Linked DNA regions of Homo sapiens: region 2 is linked to region 1. The links come from fine-mapping of genetic effects on gene expression. A gene starts in region 1. The other region holds a variant in brackets. All regions are shown on one strand. Distances are between the middles of the regions.

The links. PIP is the estimated chance that this variant, and not a neighbour inherited with it, causes the effect.
Region 2: its variant is the best candidate, but not a certain one, in a credible set for the expression of RCC1L in monocytes (TOPMed, PIP 0.73).

What each region holds. Positions count from the first base shown.
Region 1 is chr7:75,070,443-75,075,817 of GRCh38, reverse strand. It overlaps RCC1L (RCC1 like), which reads left to right and starts at 2,016. Exons shown (of 11, transcript NM_030798.5): 1 at 2,016-2,404; 2 at 5,049-5,178. The coding sequence starts at 2,081. RefSeq lists a silencer at 2,111-2,330.
Region 2 is chr7:75,049,239-75,054,613 of GRCh38, reverse strand. It overlaps RCC1L (RCC1 like), which reads left to right. Exons shown (of 11, transcript NM_030798.5): 10 at 1,818-1,903. Among named protein-coding and RNA genes, the nearest start is that of RCC1L, 22 kb to the left of the region's middle. The variant A/G (reference allele first, on the strand shown) is at 3,003.

The DNA.
Region 1 (5,375 bases):
GTTTCAGAGGGTGTGTTGATCTCTTCTGGTAAAACAGATGCCATGGCTGGGCGCGGTGGCTCAGGCCTGTAATCTCAGCACTTTGGGAGGTGGAGGCGGGCAGATCACCTGAGGTCAGGAGTTGGGGACCAGTCATGGCCACCATGGTGAAATTCCGTCTCTACTAAAAATACAAAAAATTAACCGGGTGTGGTTGTGCACGCCTGTAATCCCAACTACTTGGGAGGCTGAGGCAGGAGAATTGCTTGAACCCAGGAGGCGGAGGTTGCAGTGAGTCGAGATCATGTCACCGTACTCAAGCCTGGGTGATAGACTGAGACTCTGTCTCAAAAAACAAACAAACGAACAAAAAAACAGACGGCACGCTTGACACAGCAGCTATGAGTTGGACCATGCACTTGCCTAAATGTATGGTGGTCCCCTGTCCCCTACCACAGTCCATCTTTTTTTATTTTTTGAGACGGAGCCTCGCTCTGTCGCCAGGCTGGAGTGCAGTGGTGCGATCTCGGCTCACTGCAACCTCCGCCTCCCGGGTTCAAGCTATTCTCCTGCCTCAGCCTCCCAAGTAGCTGAGACTACAGTGCGTTCCACCACGCCCAGCTAATTTTTGTATTTTCAGTAGAAATGGGGTTTTACTATGTTGGCCAGGATGGTCTCCATCTCTTGACCTCGTGATGTGCCTGCCTTGCCCTCCCAAAATGCTGGGATTACAGGTGTGAGCCACTATGCCTGGCCAATCCATCAGTTTTTTTAGGAGCCAAACAGGTGAACTCAATGGGGAGCTACCCATTGGATAGGAATCACCACCCCTCTGAATCTTTTACATCTTTGAAGGTGGCACTAGCATCTACAATTCCATGTGGCAAACAGTGTGTGTTCTGATTGAATACTGGCTGGGTCGAGACAGGGTAAGGGGACCGATGTGAATGGCTAAGTTTATCTATCCCAAATGGTGGCAGGGAACTTACTACCAGGCGGGTCCATAGACACATTTATTTTTACTTTTATATTTACATTTAATTTAATTTTTTTTTTTTTCAGAGACAGGGTCTCACTCTGCTGTCCTGGCTGGAGTGCAGTGGTGCAATCATGGCTCACTGCAGCCTCGAACTCCTGGGCTTAAGCCATCCACCTGCCTCAGTCTCCTAAGTAGCTGGCACCACAGGTGCACACCATCACGCCGAGCTAATTTTTAAATTTTTTTGTAGAGAAAGGGTCCCACTATTTGCCCAGGCTGGTCTCGAACTCTCAAGTGATTCTCCCACCTTTGTCTTCCAAAGTGCTGGAAGACTGGGTCCGCCGCAGAGAATACATTTCATAGCCCGGGAGACTGGTGGTTTCAGTGCCTTCATGAATTTTACTCCCTGTAGTAAGAGGCTTTCCATGAGCAGTCTTGTGGTCACCACATTTTATTAGTGGGTTTTCCCCAGTCATCTTCCATAAAACAGGCCTGCACAGGCTGGGGGCGGTGGCTTATGCCTGTAATCCCAGCACTTTGGGAGGCCGAGGTGGGTGGATCACTGGAGGTCAGGAGTTCAAAACCAACCTGGCCAACATCGTGAAACCCTGTCTCTACTAAAAATACAAAAATTAGCCGGGCGTGGTGGCGTACGCCTGTGGTCCCAGCTACTCGGGAGGCTGAGACACGAGAGTCACTTGAACCCAGGAGGGGGAGGTTGCAGTGAGCCTGTCGATAGGTTTGAGGGGACCTGGGCAGGGGATGCGAAGGCAGCAGGGAATCGTCCACTCCAGCTCGCTGTCGCTGGAGGACGGCCTGGGGCGGCGTGGGAGCAGACCGGAGCGGAGACGGCTGCAGCAAGGCCAGGTAAGAAATGTCGCGGGGCAATAGCAAGGGAGCAAAACAGGACACGCAGTTTCGCTAAGGGACAAGAATCCTAATCCCGCCCCTAACCCCGCCCCTCACCATCGCCACGCCACGCCTCCCTGAGCCTTGGGCTGCCGTCAGCGCCTTTGCCTTCAACCAGGAGTAAAAGTGGCCGTAGCCTCTTCCGGCGAGGACTGGTGTTAAGGGTCACGCAAGATGGCGGCGCCCAGAGGCTGCTGAGGCGCGGAACGGAGGATGGCGCTGGTGGCGTTGGTGGCTGGGGCTCGGCTGGGGCGGCGGCTGAGCGGGCCGGGGCTGGGGCGAGGGCACTGGACGGCGGCCGGGCGCTCCCGGAGCCGGCGCGAAGCGGCAGAAGCCGAGGCGGAGGTGCCCGTGGTCCAGTACGTGGGCGAGCGCGCTGCCCGCGCCGATCGCGTCTTCGTGTGGGGCTTCAGCTTCTCGGGGGCGCTGGGCGTGCCTTCCTTTGTGGTGCCCAGCTCCGGGCCCGGGCCCCGCGCCGGCGCCCGACCGCGCCGCAGGATCCAGCCCGTGCCCTATCGCCTGGAGCTGGACCAAAAGGTGCAGGCCGCGGCTTCCTCCTTCTCTCCTTCTCTCTCTTCCGCGCTCCCGGCCTCCCTCGACCTGTTCGGCTCTCTTCAAGAAGTTGGCTCCTCTGGGTGGACAGACTTCCGGCAGGACGACCCTCGAGCTGGCTGCAAGCCCAGGAGGGGAAGGCGTTAGGGGTGGCCATCAACATTTATTGGGTGGCAGTGCCAGATGTTGTGCCGGGTCGTGTCATTCGCTTAGCACCCAGTGAGTCGACAGTTATTCCCAATTACAGGGAAGGAAGGGGAGGCCCAGAGAGGTTGAGGCCCGAGGCCCCACCGCTGCTAGCTGTTTATATGCGGTGGAATTCTCACTCAGGCCAGCGTGACTGCAGGAGTTCTGATGTTAGGAAAGCAAAATTCAAAAGTCCATTGAAAATGTATACCAGCTGAGGTGTTTCAATGAACAACTCAGAAAGGGGATTTTTTTGTTTTAATTTATTTTTTAGAGACAGGGTCTCGCTCTGTCGCTCAGGCTGGAGTGCAGTGGTGTCATCATAGCTCACTGCAGCCTCGACCTCCTGGGCTCAAGAGATCGTCCTGCCACCTAGCCCGGCAAATTTTTGTATTTTTAGTAGAGATGGGGTTTCGCCATGTTTGCTAGACTGGTCTTGAACTGAACTCAAGCGATCCGCCCGCCTTGGCCTCCCAAAGTGCTGGGATTACAGGCGTGAGCCACTGTGCCTGGCTGAAAGAGGATTGATTTTAAAATCAAACCATCTTTGGTCTATATCCAACCTCACTGGAAGCCCCGGTTTTCTCATCGGGTCAGTGAAGGGAGGATTGATGAGAGTGTAGTTAAAACACCCAACAAAGACCTTGGGGTTGTCACTGTGTTAAATTCACAGTAGCTGTAGTACTGAGTTTTCCTTTTCATGGTAATAGCCTGAGTACGTAACGGTGTAGTGTCAGTGAAAAGCATGCAGTCAAGTTACTCAACCTTTAGAAGCCACACTTTCTCATCTGCCTTATACTACTGCTAACAGCAATAAGAAATAGAAAATATAATAACAAAAGCAATAACAAAAACTAAACAACAACAACAAAAAGCATACAATATAGGCCAGGTGCGGTAGCTCATGCCTGTAATTTCAGCACTTTGGGAGGCCAAGGCAGGAGGATCATTTGAGTTCAAGAGTTTGAGACCAGCCTGGGTAACACAGTGAGAACTCATCTCTCTGTCTCTCTCTCTCTCCATATATATATATATATATATATATATATATGTATATGTATATGTATATGTATAAATTTAAAATACAAAATAGAGTACAAAATATAGGTTTGTTTTTTTTTTTTGATCTGGCTCTGTTGCCCAGGCTGGAGTACAGTGGCGTGATCATGGGTCACTGCAGCCTCGACCTCCTGGATTCAAGTGATCCTCCTGCTTCAGCCTCCCATGTAGCTGGGACCAAGCTTAAATTTTGATTTTTTCATAGAGACAGGTTGTCACTTTGTTGCCTAGGCTCAAAATATAGCTCTTACCTTGAGATGGGTACTATTCCCTATAAGGGCTTTAGCTATATTAACTCGTTTAGTCTTCACAACAGCTTAGTGAGAGAGATGGTACTATTATCATCTTTACTTTTTAGAGAAGGAGAAACAGATATAGAGGTAAAGTAATCTATCTCAGATCACACAGTTGGTAAGGATGGGGCCAGGATTCAAAACTAAGGAGATCTGTCAACTTACCTACCGCGCTAAGAGATGGTGGTGTTTTTTGTTTTGTTTTGTTTTGTTTTGTTTTTGAGACAGAGTCTTATTCTGTCACCCAGGCTGGAATGCAGTGGCGCCATCTTGGCTCACTGCAACCTCTGCCTCCCAGGTTCAAGCACTTCTCCTGCCTCCCGAGTAGCTGAGATTACAGGCGCACGCCACCATGCCTAGCTAATTTTTGTATTTTTAGTAGAGATGGGGTTTCACCATGTTGGCCAAAGCGGGTCTCAAACTCCTGACCTCAAGTGATCTGCCTGCCTCAGCCTCCCAAAGTGCTGGGATTACAGGTGTGAGCCACCGTACTCGGCTGCTGCTAGATAGTGTCTTGATCTTGGTGAATGGGGATGGTAATACCTAGTGGTAAGCTGACATAGACCATAAATAGACTATATTTATGGTCTATGTGTAAATCACCCTTCATAGAGTGATTATAAAGATTAAATGAGATAATACTTATCAAACATATAGTAAATGCTCAATAAATGCTAGTTGCTGTCTTAATAATATGTGTTCTTGGGCCAGGCACGGTGGCTGACGCATATAGTCCCAGCACCTTGGGAAGCCAAGGCGGACAGATCACTTGAGGCCGGGAATTTGAGATCACCTGGGCCAACATAGTGAAATTCTGTCTCTACTAAAAATACAGAAGTTAGCCAGACGTGGTGTGCACACCTGTAGTCCCAGCTACTTGGGAGGCTTGAACCTGGGAGATGGAGATTGCAGTGAGCCGAGATTGCGCCACTGCACTCCAGCCTGGGCAACAGAGTGAGACTGTCTCAAAAACAAAAACAAAACCCCCGTAAATAGTATGTGTTCTTGGATTTGATAAATAACCTGTCATTTACTACTGAACAAACTTGACATTATAAATCAGTTCATGCTTTGTGGGAACTGCTTTTCAGATTTCATCTGCTGCTTGCGGCTATGGATTCACACTGCTGTCCTCTAAGACTGCGGATGTTACGAAAGTCTGGGGGATGGGACTCAACAAAGATTCTCAGCTTGGATTTCACAGGAGCCGGAAAGATAAAAGTGAGCATCCCTACCTTGTCTCCTCTTTGCCGGGATTGGTCTGAGAAAGCTCTTTTTTTGTATTTTTTTTGAGACAGAGTCTCAGTCTGTTGCCAGGCTAGAGTGCAGTGGCGAGATCCTGGCTCACTGCAACCTCCACCTCCCGGGTTCAAGTGATTCTCCTGCCTCAGCCTCCCGAGTAGCTGGGATTACAGGCA
Region 2 (5,375 bases), 21 kb after region 1:
AAAGCTATTTTGATTTGATAAATAAGAGTCGTATGGACTAATTTTGGGGGAAACAAATATCTACTTTCCAGAAAGTTCTTAAGGCCTCAACTATGGGCAGAGACACATGTTTAGAAATCTGTGTGAAGCATTTGACTAGAGCAGAGGCTTTTCTATTTGCCCTCATGCCATGTAGCCATTTCAGGTCACAGCGAAATGAAATTCCTTTCTGGATTTCTCCCCGAGACTTAACAGGCCTCCTTCTAAGGGTGAGTTACTGCCTGTTGGTAGACAGAGCCTAGCTGTCTTCCTGCCTGTGTGCCTGGCATTTGCAGATAGCCATCTGGGAATTAGAGTTGGTTGGTTTATCCTGTGGTCTGCTAGCATTTTGGGGAGCCAGGCCGAATTGTTCTATTAAACACCTAAGGGCTAGCTGGGTGCAGTGGCTCATGCTTGTAATCCCAGCACTTTGGGAGGCCAAGATGAGAGGATCCCTCAAAGCCCAGGAGTTCGAGACTAGCCTAGGCAACATAGTGAGATCCCTTTTCTACAAAAAATACAGAAATTAGCTGGGTGTGGTGGTGTGCGCCTGTAGTCCCAGCTACTCTGGAGGCTGAGGTGGAAGGACTGCTTGAGTTTGAGAGTTCAAGGCTGCAGTGAGCTATGTTTGTGCCACTGCGTCGCAGCCTGGGCAGCAGAGTGAGACCCTGTCTCAAAAGCAAACAAACACACACACACAAAAACTATCTAAGGTCTGAGTGTGGAGAACAAGGGGCATGCTTAGATCAGGGGCCTAAGACAGCTTGTAATTATTCCGTACTTCATCAGCCCCAGGTCTTGTAGTCCTGGCTTTTCCATGTCACTTCCTCTGCCTCCCATGACCCAAGCCTTTTGCCCAACAGCTGATGGTGACATGGGCCCAGGAGTGCCCCAGCTGGTGCAGACAGAGTCCCACCTGAAGGCCGGGCTAGGAGAGGCCATCTCCTGGGTTGACCTCTTAAACAGCATCTTGTACTTTTTCTTCATGACAGTTTTTACAGTTTGTAAACATATATTAAAATCATCTGTCTGTTCCGTCTCTGGCCAGTCCCCAGCTCCTGGAACACAGACCTAGACCCAGCACAAGCAGGCACTTGGTCATTAGATGCCCTGTGGCTGAATGCTCCCAAGATATGGACAATCAATCCAGGAATGACAAATTGTCTTACTTTTCACTGTCAAATCAGGAAGCCCAGGGTGTCGCCAGGATTTGTGGAAGGCAGAGTTTGGTGGCACACGATTGTGGGCGGGGCACAAGGGGTGAGCAGAGTGGGCCGTGTGCATCAGTGACCTCCAGCCCCGTGCACCACCCCCAGACCCCAGCTCCATGCACCACCCCCAGACCTGTCCACCACCCCCAGACCCCAACTCCATGCACTACCCCCAGCCCTGTCCACCACCCCCAGACCCCAGCTCCATGCACCACCCCCAGCCCTGTCCACCACCCCCAGACCCCAGCTCCATGCACCACCCCCAGCCCCGTGCACCACCCCCAGACCCCAGCTCCATGCATCACCCCCAGCCCCGTGCACTGCCCCCTGCCCCATCTTCATTTGAGTGCTCATCTCCCACGTGGGTGGATGCAGCAGAAGTCCTGGCCGTGGATGTGTTTTCGATATGGGGACAGCATCTCAGACCCTTACTTTTGCCTTCAAAGAAAGCATGAACGCCTGGTAAAAGCTGAACAGTGGGCTCTGTAGGTATCTGGTTCTAGAAAGCCTGTTCTCATGACCCATCCTCTCCTTGGAGACTTGTTCTTCACACAGTCCCAACCAACCCCTGTTTTCCTCCCTTTGCAGACAAAGGAGAGCTGTTTGTATGGGGCAAGAACATCCGAGGGTGCCTGGGAATCGGTCGCCTGGAGGACCAGTATTTCCCATGGAGGGTAAGGCTGGCCGGGGAGGTCTTGAGAATGGATGCTAAGAGTAGAGTCACCTGACGTCACTGCAGACACCTCGCGTGCAGATGGGCCAGGACGAGGGCCATGGGACCTGCTCCCCCTTCCGGGTCCTGGCTGCACTCCTGCAGCGCGGCATGCTATGTCATTGCACACTCTGTGGTGACACCCATGAGATACCCGTGGTGCATCTGCATGGTGTGATGCGTGGGGGAGTGACACCAGGCTTCTTGGGGTGCAGGAGCTGGGTCAACCCATCCCGGCCCACTGACTGGGAGGTTGGAGGGAGTAGCCCACTCAAGCATCCAGTCCTATAAGAAGCCCTGTCGGAGGCCATCCTTGGGGTGGATCGGGGAAACAGAGGCACGATGGTGCAAAGGCTCTGGTAGGGTGCCATGAGGCTCCGGAGAGGGGGAGATATTGGATGAAGTTGGCACGCTAGAAGCTGTTTACAGAAGCCCATGTGGGGGAATGCTTCACAATGAATTTAAAAGAAAGCAGGATGTTTAATATTTAGATGGCCCAACCGCAGCTATGAAGTGAAAAAATAAAGTCGCTTCCTTAGGGGCGGTAGTATGCAATTAGACAAAAAGGCTCCTTCCAGAATTACAGGGGAAGAGACGCTCATTCTAAAATTGTAGTTTACCTTAGTGTTGTTTACTAAGTCAGTTCTTTAAGGCATTCTAAAAAAGGAGGTTTTTGGGGTTTTTTGAACATGAAACATATGTTCATGGTACAAAAAAATGCACTATGGAAAATGAGTCTCCCACCACCCAGTTTTTGTTCCAGAGGCAGCCACTGGTCCTGATTTCTTTATGTTCCTTTCCAGAGATAGTCTCTGCATAGAGACTGGTGTGCATGCGTGCTTTGTGTGTGTGTGCCTGTGAGTACATACATGTGTGTGCAGTGTGCATATGGGTGTATTTTATCAGAAGGTTGGATTTTAATTTGTTTTGAAATTGTGAAAAGCGTTTTTAAAAAGGACTTGCACCAGGTGTGGTGTCTCACACCTGTAATCCCAGCGCTTGGGGAGGCCCAGGTGGGTGGATCACAAGGTCAGGAGTTCGAGACCAGTCTGACCAACATG[A/G]TGAAACCCCATGTCTATTAAAAATACAAAAATTAGCCAGGCATGGTGGCACACGCCTGTAATCCCAGCTACTTGGGAGGCTGAGGCAGGAAATCACTTGAACCCGGGAGGCAGAGGTTGCAGTGAGCCAAGATCAGACGCTGCTGCACTCCAGCCTGGGCAACAGAGGGAGACTGTGTCTCAAAAAAAAACAAAGGACTTGCAAAAGAAATGTGTATATATATATGTGTGTATATATATATGTGTGTATATATATGTGTGTGTGTATATATATGTGTGTGTGTGTGTATATATGTGTGTATATATATATGTATGTATTTATATGTGTGTGTATATATGTGTGTATATATACACACACACATATAAATATATATACATATATAATACATTTATATTATACGTTTATATATATTAAATATATATATATATATATTTTTTCCAAGACTATCGGTGGAGGCTCTGAGAAAGCAAGTTGAAATGGAGACTTTAACTTTGTTTTTTTGTTTTTGCTTATTATGAGACAGGGTCTCACTTTTATCACTCAGGCTGGATTGCAGTGATGTGATCACAGCTCACTGCAGCCTTGACCTTCCTGGGCTCAGGTGATCCTCCCACCTCAGCCTCCTGAATAGCTGGGACCACAGGCGTACACCACCACACCTGACAAATTTTTTTATTTTTAGTAGAGATGGGAGTCTCACTATGTTGCCCAGGCTGGTCTCAAACTTCCGGCTTCAAGCAATCTGCCTCCCTCAGCTTCCCAAAGTGCTGGGATTACAGGCATGACCCATCACGCCCGGGCGACTTTAGCCTTGTTGGAAAGCTGTTTGTATAATAGAGTTGTTCCCAAGGTGGTGGGGCTTGCCGGCTTTCTCCTGAGCCTGGAAACTGCCGGTGTGAGGAACAGAGAGTCGGGCAGTGGGTGTGGCTCAGATAATGTGAGCATCAGTCATCTACATGCCCACTTGCTTTCTCACTGACTCCTCTCTTCTCTCACTTTGCCCTTTCTTTCGAAAAGGACTTCCTTCTGAGGGGGGAACTTGGGAAACAGTTAAAGCAGCCGGGTTTTGGGTGAAAGAACGCTGACGAGGGTCTGCCCCCCGCCCTCATTTCCTTCAAATCAGAGTGATCAGCCTGAGATTTGACTCAGGTCACGTTGCCCCTGCCATAAGGGCATGTGCAAAGCGCTGGTCCCTGTGCGGGCAGGGAGTGGCCGGAGCCCGATCCCGTTGACATTCCATCTGGGTCACTTGCCCTGGCTCGCCACACACCAAGTGTCCTTCTGGTCATTTGCTTTTTATTTTTATTTTTATTTTATTATTATTGTTTTGAGATGGAGTCTTGCTCTGTTGCCCAGGCTTGAGTGCAGTGGCATGATCTCAGCTCACTGAAACCTCCACCTTCCGGGTTCAAGTGATTCTCCTTCCTCAGCCTCCCTGGTAGCTGGGATTACAGGTGCATGCCACGACGCCTGGCTATCATTTGCTTTTTAAACACATTTGTGCCTTTGGGAAAAGAGCACCCCAGCCTGTCCCCGTGACGGCGGCATTTGGCGCCAAACCATTGTCCTTCCTCTTGCACATTCAGGGAGCCCCTAAGGGTTTGTGCACGGAGTGGCCTCGACCCCTGTCCTCTTTGGATTGGGGTGGGAGAGTCCAGTCCCTTCTGATGACTCACTTAAAAAAAAAATTACAAGTGATTTTTCTTTTCTTTGTTTTGTTTGTTTGTTCTTTTAGACAGGGTCTTGCTCTGTCACCCAAGCTGGAGTGTGGTGACAGGATCTCGGCTCACTGCAGCCTCTGTCTCCCAGGTTCAAGTGATCCTCCTATCTCAGCCTCCCGAGTAGCTGGGATTACAGGCTTGCACAACCACACCTTGCTAATTTTTGTATTTTTTGTAGAGATGGGGTCTTGCCGTGTTGCCCAGGATTTTTTTTTTTTTTTGAAAACAGGGTCTTGCTTTGTCGCCCAGGCTGGAGTATGGTGTGATCACACTCACTGCAGCCTCAAACTCCCAGGCTCAAGCTATCCTCCTGCCTCAGCCCCACAAGTAACTGAGATGTGGGATGGGATGACAGGCATGTGCCAGCACCACACCCAAATAATTTTTTTTTCGTTTTTTTTTTAAGAGACGGGGTCTTATGTGTTGATCTCAACCTCCTGGTCTCAAGTGATCCTCTTGCTTCAGCCTCTGGAATAGCTGAGATTACAGGCATGTGCCACCACACACGGCTTATTTTATTATTTATATTTATTTGTTTTATTTTATTTATTTGAGAGATGAGGTCTTCCTATGTTGCCCAGGCTGGTCTCAAACTTCTGCCTCAAGTGGTCTTCCCACCTTGGCCTCACAAAATGTTGGAACTACAGGGGT